Linked DNA regions of Homo sapiens: region 2 is linked to region 1. The links come from fine-mapping of genetic effects on gene expression. A gene starts in region 1. The other region holds a variant in brackets. All regions are shown on one strand. Distances are from middle to middle.

Evidence for each region. PIP is the estimated chance that this variant, and not a neighbour inherited with it, causes the effect.
Region 2: its variant is fine-mapped to the expression of TRIM8 in whole blood (TOPMed, PIP above 0.99).

What each region holds. Positions count from the first base shown.
Region 1 is chr10:102,639,678-102,647,677 of GRCh38, forward strand. TRIM8 (tripartite motif containing 8) reads left to right here and starts at 4,802. Exons shown (of 6, transcript NM_030912.3): 1 at 4,802-5,510. The coding sequence starts at 4,941. TRIM8-DT (TRIM8 divergent transcript) reads right to left here and starts at 3,512. Exons shown (of 1, transcript NR_186489.1): 1 at 3,115-3,512. RefSeq lists silencers at 1,775-2,069, 2,502-3,131, 3,462-3,521, 3,792-3,891, 3,972-4,951 and 1 more and enhancers at 3,440-4,194, 4,195-4,950, 5,052-5,181, 5,962-6,061.
Region 2 is chr10:102,566,204-102,574,726 of GRCh38, forward strand. The region is part of intron 3 of SUFU (SUFU negative regulator of hedgehog signaling); the gene reads left to right. It also overlaps the pseudogene RPL23AP58. Among named protein-coding and RNA genes, the nearest start is that of SUFU, 66 kb to the left of the region's middle. RefSeq lists an enhancer at 1-174. The variant A/G (reference allele first, on the strand shown) is at 5,030.

The DNA.
Region 1 (8,000 bases):
TGTGCAGACAGCATAGCCAGTTACACAGATCTGCAACCAGGAGGTGAGGATTTAGCCTGGAGATACTGACTGGGGAGTCATCAGCATGTAGATGGTAATAAAGCTCAGGAGTAAATGAGATAGCCCCAGGGTGTAGATTGGTAAGAGAAGAGGATGGAAAGCAGAACTCTGAAGACTGCCAACATTTATGAGATGGAAATTGGAGACATCTATGATTAGAAGATAAGAAGAAAACGACAAGCATATGATATCTTACAAGTTAAGGGGAGTGTTCAAAAAAGACAAGAAGTGAGGAATTGTTTAGATTGTTTATCCTGGAGGTCACTGGTGAGGAGGTCAGAAAGGGCCCTCCAACTGCTTCCAAGCTAGACCTTCTTTCTTTGCACCATCCTTACAGCATGGAATTGAGGATTAGGGCTTAGAAGCCACTTTCTCCTTGTTTGTTCATTCATTCATTTATTCACATATTCACTTGCCCTGCATATAACCCCCCATGTGAAGAGATACAAAACACTAAAGACAGGCTCTGTCATCAGAGGATCAGGGACCCAGGGGTCATACTGAACTAGATTTCAATCTCAGTTCTACCATTTAGAACATAATCTTTGATGACTCCAAAATCCCTATCTCCAGGACAAACATCCCCACTGGGCCTGTATATACAATTGTCTCCTCAATATTTCCATTGGGATATGAGCCAACTCAACTTAGAAAATCCCTTTACTCACCAGCCTGGGCAACATGGTGAAACCCTCACTCTACAAAAAAATACAAAAATTTAGCTGGGCTGTTTTGTGAGCTTGTAGTCCTAGCTACTCAGGTGGCTGAGGAGGTAGGATCACCTGAGCCTGGGAAGTTGAGGCTGCAGTGAGCCATGATTGCGCCACTGCACTCAAGCCAGGGCAACAGGGTGAAACCCTGTCTCAAAAAAAAAGAAAAGAAAAGAAAAGAAAAGAGAAAATAGAGAAGAAAAGAAAATACCCTTACTCAAATAATCTAATCCTGTTCAATTTTCCCCTTTTTAGTAAATGGTGCTACCATCAGCCTTTTGTTGAGATCCAAATCCTAGGAATCATTTTTAAAACATTTTTGGAGGATAGAAGGGAAAAATATAGAGTATAAATATTATAGTATAGCCTGGCATGGAGGCTGACGCCTGTAATCCTAGCACTTTGGGAGGCCAACGCAGCTGGATTACCTGAGGTCAGGAGTTTGAGACCAGGCTTACCAATATAGTGAAACCTTGTCTCTACTAAAAATACAAAATTAGCCAAGCGTGGTGGTGCATGCCTGTAACCCCAGCTACTCAGGAGGCTGAGGCAGGAGAATCACTTGAACCCTGGAGGCGGAGGTTGGAGTGAGCCGAGATCACGCCATTGCACTCCAGCCCGAGCAACAAGAGTGAAACTTGTCTCAAAAAACAATAATTATAGTATATATAATATATGGTATATTATAGTATATATATGGTATAGTATATATGGTATATTATAGTATATAATATATGGTATAGTATATATATGGTATATTATAGTATATATAATATATGGTATGGTATATATAACATGGTATATTATAGCATATATAATATACACTATAAATACATATAATACATATAGTATATTTATACTATATACTTATCACCATATACTGTATATCCTATACTAGATATAATATGTACTATATATAATAGTATACTATACTTTTATAGTGTACTTATAATATATAGTATCTTATACTATACTTATATAGCACACTTATAATAAGCGTACTATTATATAATATATAATAGATATATAAGGAAGGCCCTGTGTGTTCTGGCCCCTACCTTTCTTCCTGGACACATGGCCTTCTTTCTGTCCTGGAACCTGCCTGTTCTATTGCTTTTGCATTTGTTTTTTCTTCCGACTGGATCGCTCCTCCCCCAGGTTTCACCTATCTGACTCTTTGTGTGCATTCAGGTCCCAGCTCAAATGTCACTTTTTCAGAAAGCCTTTGTGTGAGCCTGTTATTCTCTATCACGTAAATTGTCCTCCGTGTATTTACGTTAAATTTTTTGTACGTTTTTCTGGGAATTCTCAGGGCCTAGAAAAATATTTTGTTAAAGATTTATTGACTGACCATTGACCTTGGCAGATTTCTGCAGTTCTTTAAGCCATGGTTTCCTTATTAATAGAGGAATAAATGCCTATCTTGCTAGGTAGTTTAAAGTGCCAGGGATGAAGTTAAAAGTATTAAGGACATCGGGAAATCTCCCCACACTGAACCTTTGCATTTCCCTGCTCAGTTCCACCGGACTGCTGAGCAGACCGACAAACGCTCCTTTCCCTCTGGGTAAAAAGAGCCACGGGTCTTCACTTCAGGCCCAGGAAGAGGTGGTCCCACTACGCCGTGGCATCATCGCTTTTTTAACAAGCGCGGAAAACCCCCTCCCATCCCAATGTTTAATGTACCGAAGTTTGTGAGAGTCACGTGAGACTCTCGGGTCTGCCCCGCCTTAGGGAGGTGGAGCCTCAGCTTGTGGGCCAATAGCAGGAGCAGCCTCCGGAACAGCCCCAACGCGACAGGGAAAGGGGGAGGAGCCGGGCGCCCGGCCCTGTAACTGTACTTCCGGAAAGCACGCCCCGCCCCTTCCCCCCCACCGCGCCCGTTTCTTTCGCCAGTGCCGGGTGGGCCGAACCGGCGGGTGCCGATTAAAGGCGCCGCCTGCCGCTTTCTCCTCGCCCCCCAGCGCCGCAGCTCTCCGCCCCCTTCCCGAGTAGCGGGACCGGCCTTGATGTAGGGACACCACCCCCCGTCTCCTTCCGCCCCAGCCCGGGAGCTCGGCTCGCTGCAGCCCCTGGCCCTCCCGTTTCCCCACCCTGCCTGCCCCGCTCTGCTCCGAACCCATTGTATACGGCCGGCTGCGGACTCCCAGGCCGGGCCGTGGCGGGGGCCCCGGGACCCCCGAGTGCCCCTCCGGCTGGTCCCGCGGGCCGCGGCATCTCCGCCGCCGCCTTCCTCGCGGCGGCGGCGAGGGCGCCCTTTCCTCCCCGCGCGGGTGACGGGGACGCACCCCCACCCCGGGGCGCCCCTTCGCGGGGGGAGAGCCGGGCCCGAGCAAGTCGAGGCAGGAAAGGGCCGCCACGGACTGCCCGGCCCGCCGATCGTTTTTATTATCGAGATTATTATTAAAAGGGGGCGGGGACCCCAGGACGCGGGGGAGGGGCTGGATACGCAGGTATTTTTATTAAACAGATTATTCCTGAAATAATAATACGCGCAAGATGGCTGAAGGTGGCTGTGATGAGAGTGTTGGGGTTGGGATTTTTTTCTTCCTGTTTTTTCTTTTTTGATCTGAGGATAAAGCTCTGAGGCGACAGCGGCTGCGGAGACCCTGCCCGAAGCGCCCTCCCCTCCCTTGAGAAGCCGCGGGCAGACAGACGGACCTCGGACCGAGCAACGGGTGCGGGCCCGCCCCGGACGCGTCGCCTGGGCAGCAGCCGGGGACCGCGGGCTCTCGCCTTTCTGCCGACTTCTTCCAATTCTCATCTTCTTTTATTTTTTGGACAGGACCGGGGTGGGTGGAGCAGAGGTGGAGAGAAATCGGGACTTGGCATTTTCTCCCTCTCTCTCTCCTAATTTGTTGGAGGCCGCCAGCCCTCCCCTTGGAAAAAAAAAAATCCCACCAAAAAAAAAAAAAAAAGAATCAGGAGCGAGAGGACGCCGCGGGGCCCTCAGCGAGCGCGCCCAGACCCCGGCCGCCGCCGCGGAGCCCAAGATGGCTGGGCGCTGAGGGTGGCGGCTCGGCCTGGCCCCGCCGCCGCAGGCTGGCTCCGACCGCAGCCCCGAGCCTTCCAGGCCCCAGCAGAGGCCGAGAAGAAAAGAAAGTGGGGAGGAGGGGGCCGGGGGGGCGAAGGGGGAGGGCCGGGGGAGGGGAGGGGAGGGCCGGGAGCCGAGCCTCCTGTTCATTAGCAGTTGAGAAAAATTCCTTTCTAGTTTGATCAATCCTTGTTTTCCTCGGCAGAGCCCGGGCGCCCGCCCAGCGCGGAGACGGGCGCGCGGGGTCTCTCCGCGGCGGGGGCGCCGGGCCTCGGGGGAGCGCAGAAGTAGCCGCCCGGGGGTCAGGCCGGAGCGCCGCCGGGGCTTCTCCCTCCCTCCCTCGCCGGTTGCCTTTTTTTCCACTTCTCTCCCTCCCCCTTCCGTTTCTATTTGTGAAGGGAGGAGGAAGGCAGAGGCGGGCTGGTGTCTCTGGCCGGGGACTGGAATTTCATCTGAATGACTGCCCCTGCGCGCACGCAGCGCCCCGGAGTCGGCCCGCCCGCGCCCCGCAGCCCGCGCCCGGCCAGCCAGCCGGGGGACGCCTGCACCGTGGCCCGGGGACCGCCGGCCTGCCCCTCCCGCCCCGTCCGGATCTAGCAGCCCTCGGCGCGGCCGCCCTCGCCTCCTGGCCCCGCAGACCCCGGGCTCCGGCCCCTGCGAGGGAGGTGCGGCGCCGACGAGCCAGGCAGGAGCCGCCGCTGCCGCCGCCGCCGGAAGAAGTGTGCTGCTCCCAAGCTCCGTCTGCCGCGGGGCGCGCCCCAATGTCAGCCGCGGGGACGAGCGCAGGCCGCGGGCCGCCACTGCCCTAGCCGCGCCGACGGGGAGGCGGCCTCTTATATGGAATTTGGACCCCGGCGCTCCCCTCCAAGGCTGGAGTCCCGGCCGCGGCCCTGGCGCAGTCCGCCGCCTCCCGCTAGGCGCTCGGGAGGAGGAGGAGACGCAGCCCGCTGCGCGCGCGGCGTGAGGACCGCGGCTCCCTCCTCCGGGGGGCGGGCACGCGGAAGGCGCTGCTGACTGAGCGACCGTCGGGGCCGGCTGGGGCCGGAGCTCGGGGCTCGGTGGGCCTACAGCGGCTCCGGACGGACCCCCGGGGCTGGGGAGTCGGGGAGGCCTGCCCCGGCCCCCTGCCCGCGGCCGCCATGGCGGAGAATTGGAAGAACTGCTTCGAGGAGGAGCTCATCTGCCCTATCTGCCTGCACGTTTTCGTGGAGCCAGTGCAGCTGCCGTGCAAACACAACTTCTGCCGGGGCTGCATCGGCGAGGCGTGGGCCAAGGACAGCGGCCTCGTACGCTGCCCAGAGTGCAACCAGGCCTACAACCAGAAGCCGGGCCTGGAGAAGAACCTGAAGCTCACCAACATCGTGGAGAAGTTCAATGCCCTGCACGTGGAGAAGCCGCCGGCGGCGCTGCACTGCGTGTTCTGCCGCCGCGGCCCCCCGCTGCCCGCGCAGAAGGTCTGCCTGCGCTGCGAGGCGCCCTGCTGCCAGTCCCACGTGCAGACGCACCTGCAGCAGCCCTCCACCGCCCGCGGGCACCTCCTGGTGGAGGCGGACGACGTGCGGGCCTGGAGCTGCCCGCAGCACAACGCCTACCGCCTCTACCACTGCGAGGCCGAGCAGGTGGCCGTGTGCCAGTACTGCTGCTACTACAGCGGCGCGCATCAGGGACACTCGGTGTGCGACGTGGAGATCCGAAGGAATGAAATCCGGGCAAGTACCCTACGCGCGCGCGCGCACACACACACACACAGACACACAGTCCCTTCCTCTCTCCCGCCCCGGGACCACCCATCCCGACAGGCTGACTCTTGTGACATCAGGCCAGTGGCCCCTGGCCAAACTCTTCTCTGAAAGTTTGGGGACAGGGTCCTGGGAAGAAGGGCCCCGGGTCGCTACTTGGTACATTCTCGCACCTGTGCGCACAGGGTCCGTCTTCTGAGTGCTTTATGGGATTGGGGTGTGGGACCGTCAGGGGTAGAGTCTGGGTGTTGCTTTTCTGTGGTGCGCAGCTCCCTCCCCCAGTCTTGTTGCTGTAGGCCCTACGGGAAGTCACCGAGGCAGTGACCCCGGTCCTGCCTCTCCAGCTGCTGTTTATGTAATGAGTGTCCCGGTGCCGCTGCTGTGGCTGACATGATCCATGATGCTGGCATACCAATGAGGAAGTAAACAAAAGCAGCCATGTTAGTTTTCAGCGCTATTGGAAACACACTGGGGGGGGAGTGGGGGGAGTTTCCAGAGGGAGAGCAGAACTCCGGCCGTCTCTCTGGACAGGGCCTGGGCAGCCAGCGAGGCCCCGACAGCGGCTCCGCTATTTGGATTCCTCCCGAGAGCCGGCTCTCCCTGTGTGAGAATCGCTGCCCTGTGTGCCTGTGTGTCGCACGGGCCGCATGAACAAGCCTTCAAGTATCTGTCTTCATCATCCTGGCCCTTTCGCCTAGCACAGCCCTCTCGCCGCCCTCCCACATTTGGGGAGGGGAAGTGGAAGACGGAAAAAGAATCCTGTGGGTTTAAGGTTGAGCCGCCTTGAAATCTGGTTTCAGGCAGCTGGCTCCCCTGGGCTGCCGGCTGGGTGATTACGGAACCGCGTCCCCTCCCATTGTATACACCCTGCGGCCGCGGCCAATGTCAAACCGCCTCCCCCCTCAGGCCTCTGGGCCTGGTTTTGGAGCTGGACTGAGGCAATACTTCCGTCCCCTTCAGTGGAGGGGGCTCCTCCTAGGTCCCTCCCCAGTCCTCTGGCTTTCAGGGTTGAGTCATACCAAAATGAAGGGGTTGGCCTGACACCGAGGAGTCCTCTCTGAAGCCCCACCTTGGGGCCTGGGGCCTGGGTGTGATATCTGGGGGCTAGGCTGCACTCTGGTGGGACTGGGAGTGTCTCTGGGTGGGGATCCCTGGAGGTTAGTGGAGGCCAGTGCGGAGGCTGGCTATGAGGAAGCTCTGTTCAGGGCATGATTGGAGATGGGGCTGTTTCCTGTGTGGGGGGACCAGTCAGAATGAGTCACTGTTTAGCAATTAAAAAACATACACATACAACCAACAAAAGGCAGGAGGGCCACCACAGGCTGGGGCGGGGGCAGCAAATACGATTTGCTGTATAATTAGTTTCCAATCGGATGGACTAGCCCTGGGTTTGTGTGCCAGGATAGGCCTCTGGTTTCTTAAAGGAAGTGTGTCCTCCACCCCCTGTGTCCTCCATCCCCGTTCAGGGCAGGCACAGCCCACACTTTCCCCAGTATTGGGAAGCTGCTGCTATTAATAAAGATGGAAGGGCTGGGGGAGGAGGCCGGGAAAAGTGCAGAGGCAGGAGAAAGGAGGGCTGTCCAGTTCTGTCCTGGGATTGGCAGTGGAAAATGAGAGGAGGGGAAAGGAGATGTGGCTGAAAGGAACAGGGGAGGGGCAGCAACCTGGGCGATGGGCGGATGCCTGCCCGCACCCACAGTGCTGCTGTAGCTGGTCTGAGTTCTAGGGATGTCTTTAATTGGGGTGGGGGAGAAAACGTCATTATACCTGACTTGGTGTAGGAGGATAGCTTTAGGTGTCTGTGTTTTTGAATGTCTTTGAGACTGTGTGCTTCGCCCTCCAATGCACCTGTCTCCTGTCTCTACAGTTCAGGGCACAGGCAGGGGTGGGTGGGTGGCATGTGCATGCAGAGTATTCCCTGGGGTGCCCCCCAGCAGGCCCCTCATTTCCAGACTCGTGGATTGGATGGAAGCAGGCACTGAACTTTGTCGGCAACTCCGCAGGGTGTGTGTGTGCGTGTGTGCGTGTGTGTGCGTGCGCGTGCATGCGCGTGCTTTCTTGTGCCTGGTGTGGGCAGGCTCAGAAGTAGTGGGTTGCATCAGGGCCAGATGTGCAATTCTGTGCGTTCAGCAGCTGTGCCCTGCAGTGGCAGCCTGAGCCTCATCCTTCTCCAGGTTCCCCCTCCCCAGGCCCCTGATTCTTTCTGGTGCCCCAGGCCACTGGGGTTGGAAACCCTTCAGTAGCCCAGTGTCACTCAAGTATGAGTTTGACTTATTGAATGTGGAGGAATAGGGGCCCTGCCTGCCCTCCCAGGAGGGAGAGGAGGGGGTGAACCATAGGAACCTAAATGGAAGAACCCTCTGCACTCTCTGTAGGCCAAACAGGGGGAGTGGGTGGAGCGCTCTTCCTTGGCCCCTTTTCTCTTCCCGGAGGGAGTCTGCCTTAAAGGGCCTTTGCTGG
Region 2 (8,523 bases), 73 kb before region 1:
CATGTAGGACCAAAATTGAACATCTCTAACAGTTGGTTACTTCATCTGTGAAACACAGGTAATAGTAATATCTACTTCATAATATAGGTAGTGTTCCTAATGCAGACCCTAGCATTATACATAGAAACAATCAATATTATTTATGGCTGGGTGCAGTGTCTCACGCCTGTAACCCCATTACTTTGGGAGGCTGAGATGGGTGGATCACCTGAGGTCAGGAATTCGAGACCAGCGGGGCCAACATGGTGAAACCACGTCTCTATTAAAAGTACAAAAATTAGGTCAGGCGCGGTAGCTCACGCCTATAATCCCAGCACTTTGGGAGGCCAAGGGGGCGGCTCACAGGGTCAGGAGTTCTAGACCAGCCTGGCCAACATAGTGAAACCCCGTCTCTACTAAAAAATACAAAAAATAAACCAGGCGTGGTGGCGGGCGCCTGTAATCCCAGCTACTTGGGAGGCTGAGGCAGGAGAATCGCCTGAACTTGGGAGGCGGAGGTTGCAGTGAGCCGAGATTATGCCATTGCACTCCAGCCCAGGCAATAATGTGAGACTCTGTCTCAAAAAAAAAAAAAAAAAAAAGTACAGAAATTAGCCGGGCATGGTGGTGGGCACCTGTATAGTCCCAGCTACTCAGGAGGCTGAGGCAGGAGAATCACTTGAACCCGGAAGGCGGAGGTTGCAGTGAGCCGAGATTGTGCCACTGCACTCCAGCCTGGGTGACAGAGCGACTCCATCTCAAAAAAAAAAAAAGTTTATGTTGTTGTTTAAGAAGCACATTGCAAAAGAAAAGGAAACAGGCTCTTTTTTTTTTTTTTTTTTTTTTTGAGACAGAGTCTCGCTGTGTTGCTCAGGCTGGAGTGCAGTGACACAATCTCGGCTCACTGCAACCTCTGCCTCCCGGGTTCATGCCATTCTCCTGCCTCAGCCTCCCTAGTAGCTGGAATTACAGGTGCCCACCACCATGCCCTGCTAATTTTTTGTATTTTTATTAGAGACGGGGTTTCACTGTGTTAGCCAGGAGGGTCTCGATCTCCTGACCTCGTGATCCGCCTGCCTCGGCCTCCCAAAGTGCTGGGATTACAGGCGTGAGCCACTGCGCCCCATCCAAAACCTGTCAAGAAAAAAAAAGGCCAGGGCAGTGGCTTTCTTACTCAGTTTCTTCATAGCTCTCTCAGTGGAAAATGACTGGCACCCGTAAGCCATACACAGTACTGCTTGAGATTCCCTGGGAGTGGGTCTCCACCGCCAGGCCTGTCTTCTTGCCTTGCAGGGCAGACATGAGGACAAGCTTGTTGTTTAGGTTCTTCCCAGGACTCAAGGACCAAGAGAACAGAATGGCCCTCCCTCGAGGGTTCTGATGAGGTTCAAGCAGCATTTCTGACTCCTCACAGAGCCCTCTCTCTGGACAGATGACAGTTGGAGCTTGAGCCAGGGGAGGAAGAGAAAAGGGAGGGAATTCGGGTGCTTTTAAAGAGGGATTGCAGCACACCCAGGCAGTGGATTGTTGTTTTGCTGGCATGCAGCAGGTAGACTCTGAAACAGCAGTGGGGGTCCTTCTCTGCCTTGTCCTGCTTGGCCCAGTGGAAGCTGCATACCTGGGGCACTGTGCTGGGCAGGGAACACATCTCTGGGAGAGGCTATAGCCCAATATCCCCTAGCCCCAGGCCTAGCTCCAGCAGCCTATGTTTGGCTTTGAAGATTTAGGAAGAACAGGACACTATCAACCTCCTGGGCCAACCGGGCATGTCTAGGTCCTCCTGTATTGAGTACCGTGGTGATCTGAACACAGGAAAACCTTGTCCTTTGCTTCTCTTTACTGGGCCACTCACATCACACATTCATTGTCTTCTGTCCTTGGCTGGTACACTTTTATTCCCCCAAACAAATATAACATTATTGTTTTCCCTAATTACAAAAAGGACATTAAAAAAATCCAGGCAACACTGAAAACATAAAGAAACCTTGTCGCAGAACAATGGGTAGAGTGGAGTTTCATTTTTACTTAAAAAAAAAAAAAAGTATGACTTTGATTATACATGCTGAAAAGAAAGTCTTAAAGACTGCATATCAGATGTTAACAGCAAATGTTAATAGCTGAGAAATGGGACTGATGGGAAAAGAGATTTTCATGTTTTACTTTATACATTTCTTTGTTGTTTGACTCTCTTATAATAAGCCTATGTTACTTTGTAACTTAAATAAATATATGTTGAAAACAAAAATAAATATTATGCTGCTGAGACAGCCATTTTTATTTGGTTACTATCCTTCTAGATATGTCTCTATACAAAAAATAGGCAGTTGTACTAAGTACTGTATATATTAACATGCTTTATTCACACAGCATCATGTCATGGAAGTCTTTCTAGCTAAGTAACTATAGTTCAGCCGGGCACAGTGGCTCACGCCTGTAATCCCAGCACTTTGGAAGGCCAAGGCAGGTGGATCACCTGAGGTCAGGAGTTCAAGACCAGCTTGGCCAATGTGATGAAACCCTGTCTCTGCTAAAAATACAAAAATTATCTGGGTGAGGTGGCGGGCGCCTGTAATCCCAGCTACTTGGGAGGCTGAGGCAGGAGAATCACTTGAACCTGGGAGGCGGAGGTTGCAGTGAGCCAAGATTGCACTATTGCACTCCAGCCTGGGCGACAAGAGCAAAACTCTGTCTCAAAAAAAAAAAAAAAAAAAAAAAATATATATATATATATATATATACACATATATATATATATATATATATATATATATATATATATATCTATAGCAGTGCTTGTAATTGTATGGCATTTCATTGTATGATACTAACATAACAGGCCCCTCTAGGATAAATAGACCCCTCTGGATGAACTTGCAGATAGTTTCCAGTTTTCCCTATTTTAAACAACACTATAAGATTGTTGCCCATATATGAACATCTTGGCAACTGCGTCCAATTATCTCAGGATCAGTTTCTAAAGTGGGATTGTGGGTCACAAGGTCCGCAGATTTTACAGTTTGGCACATATGCCCAGCTCTCCTTTTGAAGGTGATTCCACTAGGCAGGGTGGCCCCTGCCGCGGCTGCCACTGTGTTCTCACCTGTAGTCATGGCCATTTGGCAGTCCAGGCACTGAGGAAGCACTGTGTAGTCTTTCAAGTCCGTAAAATAAGACACAGGACTCTTCCCACTCTTGATAGCTTTAAAGCTGGCCGTATTCCAACATTAAGGAAGTTCTTTGAGGCTGGAGGCCCACAGGCTACTCAGACTCTGTGGCTCTTGGAAAGCCCTGCACTACCTGAGTTCACCCTCACAACTCAGTCCCTTCTCTATCTCTCCAAGCAGGTAGAAATGTCCTGGAAGAGTCTGGCCTGAACACCAAAAGGGTTCACTAATGATTTATTGCTATCTCTTCCTATAATCAAATCACCCAAAATTGGTTATCTAAACCCCTTTCCTGTATCTGATTGGTAGGGAAACTTTGAAATTTGGGCAGGTACATAGACGGCTGAGGGGCTGTTCTTTATACAGATACTCAGAGGTAAGTGCCTGCCTCATGTCCGTCTCTGACCCAACAGCCCCTTCTGGGTGCAACATTCAACAAGGGATTTAAACCAATCAGAGTGTGTCCAGAGAATGGTGGCATTCAAACTGGCAAAACCTTTCAAAACTGTCCATCTATGAGGAATGACTATAAAAGTGAGGTAACTGGAAATATTCTAGTTTGAAGACGAAAAGACTTTGAGATGGAATATGTAGGGAGTTGAACTATGACCCACAACAGGTATTTAAAAATAGCTGAGGTCTTCCCATATGGAAAAGGGATTTGACTTTTTGTTACTCAGAATAGAGAGCTAGAAAGCTGTTAACTCTTCATTGGGATGTAGAAGAATTTCCAAATGTGGATAGGCACTGGGAGGCAGTAAACTCACCATCCCTGAAGTTTTCCTAGTCGTCTGGGCAGTTGCTGGCCCAGGCGCTTGTAGAGGGGATTTAAGCGCTGGGTGTGCAGTTGGTGATTTGGGAATCTAGATTGCCGAACCGAGAGAATATTTATTTATTTATTTATTTATTTATTGAGACGGAGTCTTGTTCTGTTGCCCAGGCTGGAGTGCAGTGGTGCAATCTCGGCTCACTGCAACCTCCGCCTCCCAGGTTCAAGCAATTCTCTTGCCTCAGCCTCTCAAGTAGCTGGGACTACAGGCACACGCCACCACGCCTGGCTAATTCTTATATTTTTTAGTAGAGACGGAGTTTCACCATGTTGACCAGGCTGGTCTCGAACTCCTGACTTTGTGATCCGCCTGCCTCGGTCTCCCAAAGGAGACCATTTATTAATGCTGGGGTTTTTTTAGTTTTTTGTTTGTTTGTTTTCTAATCGGTATTTTTGTGACCCCTTCTTCTGTGTTCCAGTCTGGTTTCTTGCAAACAAGTCCTTCCCCCTTCCTCTTCTCGATGCTTCCCAGGTCCTCCAGGTCTGACCCAGCTGGGTGACTTCTGAGAACATCCATAAGTACTATAGCTGTGCTTCTTGGTGTAAACTAAGGCAGGAAGAAGGGAGTTAGTTTCCTAAGCTGAAAATTAGAATCGTGGCTCCTCGAAGAAAACATCTGCTCTTCCTATGTGGGTGGATTCTATGTCTGTGTCTCAGTTCTACTGGATCCTTCTGTCTTCATTTCTTTTTGTGTAAATAGTGGCCATATTTTCCAGTGGTCAGATCTTTCAAATGAATAGCAACTGTTTAATTTGTACAGTATTTTCAGTACACAAGGCAATTTTTACATATTTTGTTTTCTTGGATTCTAAAAAAAAAACCAAAACCTTCAAGGTGTACAGTATATCATCACATCATGTTTTGGTAGGTGAAAAAACAGATGCAGAGAAGTTAAGTGGCTTCTTCAAGGTTACACAGTAAGAAAATCGTATCAGAGAATAAAGCTAAGAGAGGAGACTCTTAACTAGAGGATCTGATTTTGTCTTGAACAGGAGGGTATACATAATACATTTTGGGTGACTATTTGCACCCATGACCTGATAGAAGAAAAATAGTC[A/G]GTACTAATAAGTAACGGTTTCACCTTACACTAAGATGGCCAGTGACTGAGCTAAAGAGAAGTTAGTGTTTCATTAATTTATCTTTTTTTGGGTTGCTGGGGATGAGGCCAACCAAAATTCTCTCTGGGTTAAAAGTTGATGTTTAAGGAGGCCGGGCACAGTGGCTGACGCCTGTAATCCCAGCACTTTGGGAGGCTGAGGTGGGTGGATCACTTGAGGCCAGGATTTCAAGACCAGCCTGGGCAACATGCCGAAACCCTGTCTCTACTAAAAAACAAACAAACAAAACAAACAAACAAACAAAAAATTAGCCAGGCATGGTGGTGCACACCTGTAATTCCAGCTACTTGGGAGACTAAGGCAGGAGAATCATTTGAACCTGGGAGACAGAGGTTGCAGTGAGTCAAGATTGCGCCACTGCACTCTAGCCTGGGCGACAGAGCAAGACTCTGTTTCAAAAAACAAAACAACAACAAAAAATTAGTGGCTTAAAACCCAATTTCTGTGTGTCTCAAGTTTGGACACAGCTTATCTCTAGGTCCTCTGGCCAGGGCCTTGCAAGGCTACAATTAAGGTGTTTACCATGCTGCATTCTTTTCTTTTCTTTTTTTTCCTTGTTCATATACAGGCTGCATTCTTATTTGAGGCTCCCCTGGAGAAGAATATGCTTCCAAGTTCCGTCAGGTTGTTGACAGAATTCCTTTCCTTGCAACTTTAGGATTCAAGGCAGCTTGCTTCTTTAAAGCAGCAATGGAGGAAGAGTCTGACGTTTGTGTAGGGGTACAGTTCCCTTTTAAAGGGCTTTTACCTGTTTCAGTCAAGTCCACCCAGGAGAATCTCTTTTTTTCTGAGATGGAGTTTCACTCTTGTTGCCCAGGCTGGAGTGCAATGATATGATCTTGGCTCATTGCAAACTCCGCCTCCCAGGTTCAAGCCATTCTCCTGCCTCAGCCTCCCGAGTAGCTGGGATTACAGGCACCGGCCACCACGCCTGGATAATTTTTTTTTTTTTTTGTAATTTTAGTAGAGGACGGGTTTCATCATGTTGGTCAGGCTGGTCTGGAACTCCTGACCTCAGGTGATCCGTCTGCCTCGGCCTCCCAAAGTGCTGGGATTACAGGTGTGAGCCACCGTGACCGGCCTCTCCCCTTTTTCTTTCTTTTTTTTTTTTTTTGAGACAGAGTCTCACTCTATTGCCCAGGTTGGAGTGTAGTGGCGCGATCTTGGCTCACTACAACCTCTGCCACCCGGGTTCAAGCAATTCTCCTGCCCCAGCCTCCTGAGTAGCTGGGATTACAGGCACCTGCCACCACACCCGGCTACTTTTTGTATTTTTAGTACAGATGGGGTTTTGCCATCTTGCCCAGGCTGATCTTGAACCCCTGACCTCGTGATCCACCCTCCTTGGCCTCCCAAACTGCTGAGATTACAGGTGTGAGTGAGCCACCATGCCCAGCCTTTTTTTTGTTGTTGTTATGGTGAAAAGATATACATATATTTAGAATTACCCAGCTGGACTCAGTTTAAATGATCCCAATTTTGTTGGCAACATCCAAAGCATCGTAATCAGGAGCCAGTCCAACATATGCCTTCTTCTCTCCATCACGCTGAATCAGGGTGTTGACCTTGGTCACATCAGTGTCATAGAGCTTCTTCACAGCCTATTTGATCTGGTGCTTGTTGGCTTTAACATCCACAGTGAACACAAGTGTGTTGTTGTCTTCTATCTTCTTCATGGCAGACTCAGTGGTCAGTGGAAACTTGATGATAGCATAGTGGTCAAGCTTGTTCTCCGGGGTTGGTCTTCTGAGGGTACTTGGGCTGCCTCCAGAATCGCAGTGTCTTGGGCCGCTGGAAGGTAGGTGACGTGCGGATCTTCTTTTTTTTGTGGCTGTGGACACCTTTCAACACTGCCTTCTTGGCCTTCAAAGCCTTTGCTTTGGCTTCGGCTTTAGGAGGAGCAGGAGCTTCCTTCTTTGCTTTCGGCACCGTCTTGTGAAAAGGGCCTCCATTTTAATTAACACAAAATCATCTACTTTGGCCTCACAGCCGTTAGAATGGCTACTATCAAAAAAAGAAAAAACAAAACAAAACAGAAAATAGTATGTTAGCAAGCATGTGAAGAAATTGGCACCCTTGTACACTGTTGATAGGAATGTAAAATGGTGCAGCTGCTGTGGAAAATGGTCTGGTGCTTCTTCAGAAAGTTCAAAATGGAATTACTGTATGATCCAGCAATCTCACCTCTGGGTATGTGTCCAAAAGAATTGAAAGCAGGGACTTGAACAGATATTTGTGCACCAGTTTTCATAGCATCCAAAAAGTGGAAGTAACTCAAGTGTCCATCAACAGATGAATGGGTAAACAAAGTATGGTATATACATATAATGGAATATTACTCAGCCTTAATAAAAGGAAGGAAATTCTGCCACATGCTGCAGGCTACAACATGGATGAACCCAGGAGACATTATGGCAAGTGAAATAAGCCAGACACAAAAAGACAAATATTGTATGATTCCACTTACATAAGGTACTTAGAGTAGTTAGGTTCATAGAGACAGAAGGCAAAATGTTGGTTTCCAGGGGTTGGAAGCAGTGGAATGGGGAGTTACTGTTTACTGTATAGAGTTTCAGTTGGGGAAGATGAAAAAAAGTCCTGGAAATGGAAGCTTCTTATGGTTGCACAACAATATGAATGTACTTAATGCCACTTAAAAATGGCTAAATTGGTGAATTTTATGTTGATGTATTTTACTACAACTAAAACTGAAAAAAAAATTAATAAATGATTTGGGATGTTACTTTACATCTTTAAAATATCTTTACTTTTGCCATATTCTGTTAGCAAGAAGCAAGTTATAGGTCTCGCCCACACTTGGGGGAAAGTATTAGACAGGGCTTGAGTACCAAGGGGATTGGGGACCATGGGGGCACCTTAGAGTCTGTCTGCCACATTTCCTAAAACTCAGAAGCAAAATAAAACAAGTGAAATTCACAGCATACCAAATTGGTGTCAAAACAATATACAGAGATCTTAAACTATAGTAATTTGTCTGTATATCCCTAATATATACACAAAGACAGAAAAAACTGTTTTCAGTAATCATGTTGTTAATAAAAATATTGACTTTAACCTAAAACTAGTATATGGATATAATAGGATAAAGCAAATAAGTAATTATGTTAGAAAGCAAGATGTTCAGCATAAGATTAGAAAGATACAAATATATGGCCAGGCGTTGTGGCTCACATTTGTAGTGCCAGCTGTTTGAGAGGCTAAGACGAGAGGATTGCTTGAGCCCAGGAATTTGAGCCTGCAGTGAGCTGTAATTGTGCCACTACACTCTAGCCTGAGTGACACAGTGAGACCTTGTCTCTAAAACAGTAATAAAATAAATAAAAGATACAAATATAAAATCAAATAAGTAAAAATGTTATATTCTTAAATTTGGATTCTAATTAGCAAGATGAACAAAAGATGTGTTTTCTCT